Linked DNA regions of Homo sapiens: region 2 is linked to region 1. Evidence: fine-mapped expression QTL. Tissue or cell type: tibial artery. Region 1 holds a variant in brackets; the other region holds the start of a gene. All regions are shown on one strand. Distances are between the middles of the regions.

Region 1 (4,377 bases):
TGTAATCCCAGCACTTTGGGAGGCCGAGGCGGGCGGATCACGAGGTCAGGAGATTGAGACTATCCTGGCTAACACAGTGAAACCCCATCTCTACTAAAAATAAAAAAAAATTAGCCTGGTGTGGTGGCGGGCATGGTGGCGGGCGCCTGTAGTCCCAGATACTCGGGAGGCTGAGGCAGGAGAATGGCATGAACCCGGGAGGCAGAGCTTGCAGTGAGCTGAGATCGCACCACTGCACTCCAGCCTGGGCAATATAGCAAGACTCCATCTCAAAAAAGAAAAAAAAAAGAACCCGGCCAAAACCCACCAAAACCAAGATGGCACGAGAGTGACCTCTGGTCGTCCTCACTGCTGCACTCCCACCAGTGCCATGACAGTTTACAAATGTCATGGCAATGTCAGTAAGTGACCCTAAAAGGGGAGGCATGAGTAATCCACCCCTTGTTTAGCAGATAATCAAGAAAGAACCATAAATATGGGACACCAGCTGCCCTTGGGGCTGCTCTACGGAGTAGCCATTCTTTTCTTCTTCTTTTTTTTTTTTTTTTTGAGATGGAGTCTCGCTATGTTGCCCAGGCTCAAGTGCAGTGGCACCATCTCAGCTCACTGCAACCTCCGCCTCCCGGGTTCAAGCGATTCTCCTGCCTCAGCCTCCTGAGTAGCTGGGATTACAGGCCCACACCACCACGCCCGGCTAATTTTTATATTTTCAGTAGAGACGGGGTTTCACCACATTGGTTAGGCTGGTCTGGATCTCCTGACCTCGTGATCTGCCCACCTCAGCCTCCCAAAGTGCTGGGATTACAGGCGTGAGCCACCGCGCCTGTTGGCCGGCTTCTTTCCACATCCTGTTTTATCAGCAAGATCTTTATGACTTGTATCTTTTGCCGACCTCCTATCTCACCCTGTGACTTAGAATGGCTAGCTGTCTGAGAATGCGGCCCAGTAGATCTCAGTCTTATTTTACCCGGCCCCTATTCAAGATGGAGTTGCTGTGGTTCAGAGGTCTCTGACACTGGGGGGTCAGCCTGGCCCCTCCTGACCGCGGGAACCGCCCGCCTTGGCCTCCCAAAGTGCTTGGATTACGGGCGTGAACCACCGCGCCCTGCCGGAGTGGCCATTCTTTTATGCCTTTACTTTCCTAATAAACTTGCTTTCACTTTACTGCAGAGATTCACCTCTAATTTTTTCTTGCACGAGATCCAAGAACCCTCTCTTGGGGTCTGGATCTGGACCCCTTTCTGGCATCAACACGGGTCCGCAGCGCCAGGGCGGGCGGAGCTGGAGCCGGAGCCTTAGCCTCAGCCTTGAGACCCGGCGGGCCGCGCCCGACCGTCCCCGCCCCCCAGAGCTTCCTTGGAAGGTACCCGTAGAAAATTCCAGCCTCGCGGGGCCACCGAGCTGCCTCCGAACCGGGTTTTACCGGCGGGGCGGGTCCCGGGGCCACTGAGCGGGTGCGAAGGGGCCGCCGCCCCTTCGGGGCTCCCCGCCGGCCTTGGCTCCCTGGGGACCGGCGGGCGGGCCGCTGGAGCCGGGCTCTGGACGTCCTGGCAAACAGGAAGCGAGACAAAGGCGGCCACTTATCCGGCGCCCGCATTCCTTTCAGGTGATGCCCGTGAGGCCCGGGGGACGCGGCGATCCTGAGGGGCTGCCAGGGGCCCCCGGGGACCTCCCTGCCGCAGTCCCTCGGCGACTGAGGGTGCCCCTGCCTCCCCACTGGCTGGAGGTGGCGGCGGGGAGGATTCCTTGCGCTCGGGGATCCCCCTCCCAGGCACAGGCCCTTGGGCTCCCAGAAAGGAAGGAGCACCAGCCTGGCGTCTGTGCCCGGGGGGACGCAGTGGAGGCTTGGGAGGG[GC/C]CTGGAGGTGAAAGAATGGGCCATATCCACTCAGTCATTCCATACATTGGAGGGCCACCCTATACCAGGGTTTCGGTGTGGGTACCAGGACCCACTAATGAAACAGACCATCCCTGCCCTCTAGGAACTTCCAGCATAATGCGGAAGTTCAATAGATCCCAGATACCTGAAATATTGGGTGAAGGGCAGAGTGCAGATGATTTGAGGGAGGGTCTAACCCACGCCGGATGGGGATGGGGTGGCCTGGGCTCCTTGCACAGCCTCTGGCACTTCAGTGACCTTCACAGGCACTGTCTGGAAGAAGGAACCTTGGAGCGGGACAAGGGGTGGGTGGCATGGAAGGGCATCTGGCCCGGAGAGCAGCGTGAGCGAATGTCTGGCAGTCTGCATGTGTACCGGGCATTTGAGAGGCAGCAAGGAGCTGGTGACGAGGTTGGGCGGGTGGGTTCTGATGGCCTTGGAGCCAGGCTGAGGCCTGGCTTATTGTGCTGGCACTGGGAATCTGAGGAGGTGGGGTGGGAAGCAGGCTCAGCTTGGCCCAAGAGCAGGCCGAGGAGAGGCCCCCCTTGCCTGGATGGCTTGGAGAGACTGATCTACAGAGACAGAGGCTCCAGCTTCTGAGGGCTGTGCCCCCCTTGCCTGCTGGGCACTGGCACCGGTTCAGCTGATAGGAGTGCAGGGCTCCCCCTTCAGGCGGCAGCTGACTCAGCGTCTGAAAGGTGGTTCCCACGGTTCAGGTTTCTCTCTAGGGCCAAAGGCCATGCCATCCATGCCCCTCCCCCAAGTGGGTCAGTGCCCAGGGCATTGACAATTAGGGCTGAATGGAAGTTAGGATTTCCAGTCCCCCCACCCCTGCCAACCAGCAACACCTCAGGCAGTCCTTTCTGCTGTCTAACCACTGCCAGCCCAACTTTGGCTTGGCTTTCCACTCCCAGAGGTTCCAAGACACTGTAGTTATCAATACTTTGGTTTTATTTTAAAACAGTGAAAAGAAAAATAAATATCTGAAGAATAAGAATACAGGGCTGGGTGCAGTGGCTCATGCCTGCAATCCCAGCACTTTGGGAGGCGGAGGCAGGTGGACCGCTTGAGCCCAGGAGTTCGAGACCAGCCTGGGCAACACAGTGAGACCCCCCTCTTTACAAAAAATACAAAAATTAGCCAGGTGTGGTGGTGCACCTGTAGTCCCAGCTACTTGAGAGGCTGAGGTGGGAGGGTCACTTGAACCCAGGAGTCGGAGGTTACAGTGAGCCCTGATGGGCCACTGCACTCCAACCTGGGCAACGGAGCAAGACCCTGTCTAAAAAAAAAAAAAAAAGAATACAGGAGTGGGGTGGGGTAGTGGGGCTGGAGACTTGAGGTGTCCTGGCTTTGGTAGTCTTGAGTGGGGGCGCCAGAGGCCTGGGATCTGCAGCTGTGCTCTTCCCAGGCCAGGCCCTGCCCCGTCCCCACTGGGAGGTCTGGGGGCTCCGCCAGTCTCGCCTGCCCGCGGCTCCCAGGCGGGGCGCTGCGTCAGCGGAACCCGCGCCGGGATTAGCGCCCTGGCGCCCGCCTGCGCCCCGGGCTCTGTCGGGCGAGGCTGGGGTCACCGCCCCATTGGGGCCTCTTCCGCCGGCCCTTAGCCTGGATCCCAGGCCGGACCCCGCGTGGTGCCCGCAGCCTCAGTGATGACCCATGTCCTCCATGCCCACGCGGCCCCAGACGCCCAGCACGAAGCTCTCGATGTCGCACTCATTGACGCCGCGCACGATGCGGAAGTGGCCCCTCTCGCCCCAGGCTGGGCCCCAGGAGTTGGCCGCAGTCTGGGAATAAGGAGGGGTGGTGAGAAGGGGAATGGGAGTGGGGCGAGGGGAAGAGGGGGCGGGGAAAGGGTCAGCGGCCTCACCCAGTATTTGAGCGTCCTTCCATCTGGCAGCGTCTCCTCTCCCCATCTGTGGGCAGAGCAGAGGAGGGGGAAGGGAGCTGGGTCTACCTGCTCTCAGGAGCTCCAATCCCGGAAACCTGCCCCATCCAGCCCCCAGTTGCCTTTGGAGGGTTGGGTACACCCTTAGGGCTCAGGCAGGTCTCTGTACCTCTCTGCATCTCCCTCACTCTCACATCTGTAAGTCGGTGCACCCAGGCCCAGCATGGGAGGGGGTGGGGCACCAAGGGGACAAGTGGAGGCAAGGTGAGCAGAAGAGGAGGGAACCTGGGTCCTCCAGAGACCCACCTCCTAGGGGCCAGTTCTATGGGACCACACATCCACCTGCCCTCCCTCACTTGGGGATCCAGGGAGGGGTAGGTGCCAAGGGCCAGAAGGAAGACACTCTGAGAATATGGGTATCTTAGAGACCGCCAATTCCCACCGTAAAGCACATTTCACCGAGTTCATTGAAGTCAGTGATCCTAACATCTATATTCCCTAAATCGGATAGGGAAACTGAGGCCAGGGGAGCGACCTCCCAGGTCACTCGGTGGGTCAGGCAGAGCTGGGACAGGTGCTGAGGTGGGGAGAGGTTGAGAAACTCTTGAGGCTCTCTTCA
Region 2 (4,377 bases), 29 kb before region 1:
TGGCAGAGCCACACCCATCCTAGTTCTGCCTAATCAGCGAGCCCTCCTCCCACACAACCCCCTTCAATCCCCAGGGAAAGCCGGCAGCACTGCCGGGCAAGCCCTGGACCTACCCAGCGTGTTGCCCACCAGGGCCACGACGAACACAGCCACATAGGCTGCGATGAGGACCCACTCATACTGTTTTGGGTACAGATAATCGCGCCACAGATAGCGGAGAAACTCATCTTCATAGTCTGGAGGCACAGGGGACGGCTCTCTGCTGCCAGGGGGGACCCCCATCTGGGCCCCTGGGGTGGCTGAGGGCTCCATGAGCTCAGGAGCCGCTGCAGCAGAGGGGCATCCTAGGCTCTACAGAGGGAGAGGAGGGAGCTTGGGCCAGCCCTCAGCCCACTCCCTTCAGGGTGCCTGGAGGCTTGCACCCAGGTCTTTTCGGGTCTCAGCCTCAAACTTCCTGAAGGGAGGAAGGAAAGGAGGGAGTGGGAAAAGAGAGAAGGAAGGAAACATTAGGGATTGTGCCAGGCGCTTTGCGTATAAGTTCCCTCTTAATTCTCACAGTCATGAAATTGGTGGAGGAAGACAGACCTGGGTTGCATCCCAATTCCACACCAGTTGCCTTGGGTAGCTTACCTGGCCTCTTTCAGCCTTGGTTTCCCCATCTGTCTAATGGGGTGACAGCCCTACATACCTTACAGGACCACGATGAGGAGTAATGAGCTCCGATGCGTGCCAAGTGCTTCACCAAGAACCTGGTACGAGAAGGTAGTTTCGGGGACGTTTCCGGTTACCATTATTAGGGTACCCTGCTTTGCAGATGAGACCGAAGCTCAGAGAGATTGAGTCTCTTGCTCAAGGTCACAAAGCTCTTAAGCCAGGTCTGTTCGAACCCACCAAACACCGTAGATTTGGGAGGAGAAGCCATCCCGATTGCAAATATTTCTTGAGCCAGTTCAGAGGCTTTAACTTTGGGTTGGGAAAACGGGCCAAGGGAGGTGTTAGAGACCCAAGCCCCACCCGCCATACCTGCCAGACCCTCCGGTGGGCACTCGCGGACACGCACACATACAACACACACACAGTGGGGGTGGTGCGCGGAGGGACTGACGACCCCTTGCGAGCAAGGGGAGCATCCAGGCCCCCTAAGAGGCCCCTTTGGGTCCCCAGGGCCGCGACGCTCCCCGACGGCCGCCAGGAGCCGCTGTTCCGGCGCGCGGGTCGCTCTCCATTCATAAATCCAGCCAGCCCAGCTCCCCGCCCCTCCCCTCCTCCCGCACTCAGCCCCTCCTTCCCCCGGCTGGGCTAGGACGACCCCGGCCAGGTGCCGGAGGGTTGCGGATCCCTGGAGACCCCTGGGGAAGGGGAGGGGACGCCTTCATACCCCACTGAACGCCGGCAGGCCCGCTCCGTCCGCGGGACCTTCCTGCACCTCGGGGGCTGGCGGGGCTCCGGGAAGGCGCGGGGGAGCGAGGGCACTCGGAGCCTGCCTAGAGGAGAGCAGCGCTGGCCGAGGAGCCAGTCTCCCAGCACCCAGGTTACCCCCCGAGACTCTTGGCTCCTCCCATCCCTCGCCGCGGGTCCTTTGGAACCCCCATCCCAGGCCTGGGGGTCCCCCACACCCCGCACCTGTTGGCTCCGGGACCCGGGCGTTCTCGGCTGCTGGTCCCCGGACCTGGCACCGGGGACTTCGCCTTCCTGCGAGGAAGGCCGAGCCTCTAGGGGCCGGGACTGCAGGAGGGGGCCGGGGCAGCCCCCTCCCTAGGCTGCGCTGCCTCGGCTCGCGGGGCTCAGCACGATCCGCGGCAACTGCGCGGGCTGTGGCTCGGCGCGGGCTCCGCCGGGCTGCGCGCTGCGGGGAGGGAGGGCCGGCGGGAGGGGCAGGGCGGGGTGGGAGCCCCCAGACGGTCTTGGCTCCCTGTCTTCCAGCCCCGAGACCCGCAGGGCGGAGGGAGACGCTCGTTCCTTCTAGCCTCCCACTTCAAGCTTCCATCCCACCTCCATTCATGCGTCCATCCGTTCATTCATTCCATCCTCATTCATTCAACATTTATGCCCCTGGCCACCCCGCATTCTGGGCGCACTTAGTGTGTGCCGGCGGGCCTGGCAGCTTCAGAGGGCCACAGTGCAGAGGTGGAGCCCAGCCCCGCCTCTCCTTGCTGCCTCACCTAACTGAGGAGGAGGATGGCACAGGTGGGTCACAGGGGTGAGACAGAGAGGATGCCTGCACCGCCTCCAGCCTAGCTCCGGATGCTGCTGTAACAGCTAGCTCCCAACGATGCCAGAGAAGCCTGTTCTCCCATCTCCCAGCCCCCCATCCTATCTGCCCCCAGTTTCTCTTTTTGTTATACCTACTGTTCCCCCCAAAAATCAAGGACGCCGGTGGGGACAGAAGTGGGGGTTCGTTAATTCCACAAATAACGATTTATTAAGCTGTGTGCTAGGCAGTGAGTTCTAATAATACAGCTACCGTTTGGATAATGCATATGATGCCTGCTCTCATTTAATCTTCATATCAACCTGGTGAGGTGGTCGTTATTGTCCCCATTTTACAGATAAGGACACTGGATCCACATGGCGCAATGACTTGCCCAAGGTCGCACAGCAGAGGCAGAGCTGGGCTTTGAGCCTCTGCCCCTCTCAGGCCTCTAGCCTCTCTCACCAGACACAGTCTCCCTCCCCTGCAAAATCTCTCTGGCTGGTGGGGGAGGCAGGTGCACACCCAGGCAATTAACCTGTGGTGTGAGGAGGGTGTGAGGGCCCTGGGGGCTGTGGGGCACAGGAGGACAGACCGACTCAGCCAGGGCATGAGAACAGGCTTCCTGGAGCAGGGACATCTCCATGGAGACCTGAAGAATAAGAAGGTAGCCTGCAAGGGGGATTGTGGTATTCGAGGAGAGGCATTCAAGGTCAGGAAACAGCAGGTGCAAAGGTTTGAAGGTTGGGGATTCTGGAAATCACAGGTAGGTGAAGGGTGACTGCCTGAGCATCATGCAGTCACCTTGGCCATCCCCTAGCTCAGCATAGGACATTCCTAACATGTCACCCTCTGAAACTCACACTGTTTCCCTCCTGGGAGGTGACTCCTGGGATGCAACCACCATCTTTCCCATTGCAGCCAAAGCCCTTTTCAAAGGCTCTGAAGATGCGCCGTTAGGCATAGGAGGTGTGGGAGAGGAACTGGAGCAGCATAAGGGAGGGGGCCAGTGACCTTAACCTCTGCAGAACAGGAGGATGGACTGAAGCTAAACCCAAGGCAGAACTTTGTCCTTGGGCAGGTATGGCATCTGCATGGTGTGTGATGTCTTGTCTTCCCTAGGTGCTGGCCGAGGTAGGAGAATGAGTGAAGGGACTCAGAAGAGGGGCTGCTGTGTGTGTGTGTGTGTGTGTGCGTGTGTGCATGTGTGAATGTGTGGGTGTGTGCATGTCTGCATATGTGTGCATGAGTGTGTGTTTGTGTTTGAGTCTTGAATTCAAGTAAGGGCTGTGGTGTGTGTCTAGGGAATCCAGTGTGTTTGAGTCTGACTGTGCATATGAGCAGGGGGTGGGCTCTGGGTTGATGACTGGAGGTCACTCTGGGTGGGATGTGTCTGTCTGGGTCTTGATCTGTCCCTGTGTTTTGGCGTTTGTGTCTATGGGGAATGTGTATGTGTGAGGAGATGACTGTTTCTCAGTGTGGATCTGAATGTTCAACTGTGGCTTTGACTAGCACTGGCCTCCCAGCGTGTTTCCCTGTGAGTGTGGGAATGTGAGTGTGGCCATGCCTTTGTGTGTAAGGTTCTGTGAGTGTGCATATGTGGAACTTGGTACATCTGTTCCCACGGCAATGACTCATCTTATCCCCCCACATTCTCCCCCCTACCTGGAGCTGTGATTGTTTGCTATGTAGGGGCTGCAGAGGGGGCTGCAGCATGTAGGGGGATGGGAGGCAGATCGTGTGGGGACACTCCAATAACAGTTGCGGCAAACAAGGTTCAGCCCGCAGTGTGGAAGGTACAGATCCATGTTTGTCTGTGTGGGCGGTAGGCACTGGCCAAGCCCAGCACAGCCCAGGCTTAGAACCTAGCCCAGAGTGCAGATCTCCATATTACAGGGCCTCCCAGATACCATGGGTTGGAGTGGGCAAGGGGCTCGCCAGGCTCCCCCATGTCATGATACAGGGTGGTGCATGTCTGTGTAGGGAGGAAATCATGGCTGAGAATTCCCCCCAGTATACAATGTCACAGAGTCAGTCCCATCTCCACTTAAGAGGGATCTCAATTGCCAACCTTCCCCCACCCTTTATCCGTTGGTGCCCCAAAGATGGCTGCTCCCCAGGTCAAGGGATATCCTAAGAGATTCCTGCCATCACAAGCAACAGATCTCCCTGTCTCCCCTATCAGA

Alleles and levels. Alleles are on the strand shown, and positions count from the first base shown. SD is a standard deviation of normalised expression in the study named.
For the expression in tibial artery of the gene that starts at base 1,816 in region 2, GC is the high allele of the variant in region 1 and C is the other (small effect, 0.28 SD a copy in GTEx).

Evidence for each region. PIP is the estimated chance that this variant, and not a neighbour inherited with it, causes the effect.
Region 2: it holds the start of HCRTR1, and the variant in region 1 is the best candidate, but not a certain one, in a credible set for the expression of HCRTR1 in tibial artery (GTEx, PIP 0.88).

Annotation. Positions count from the first base shown.
Region 1 is chr1:31,586,119-31,590,495 of GRCh38, reverse strand. It overlaps TINAGL1 (tubulointerstitial nephritis antigen like 1), which reads right to left. Exons shown (of 12, transcript NM_022164.3): 11 at 3,741-3,786; 12 at 2,810-3,657. The coding sequence ends at 3,517. Among named protein-coding and RNA genes, the nearest start is that of TINAGL1, 12 kb to the right of the region's middle. The variant GC/C (reference allele first, on the strand shown) is at 1,855.
Region 2 is chr1:31,615,128-31,619,504 of GRCh38, reverse strand. It overlaps HCRTR1 (hypocretin receptor 1), which reads right to left and starts at 1,816. Exons shown (of 9, transcript NM_001525.3): 1 at 1,624-1,816; 2 at 689-749; 3 at 114-454. The coding sequence starts at 312. RefSeq lists enhancers at 1,211-1,900, 4,126-4,377.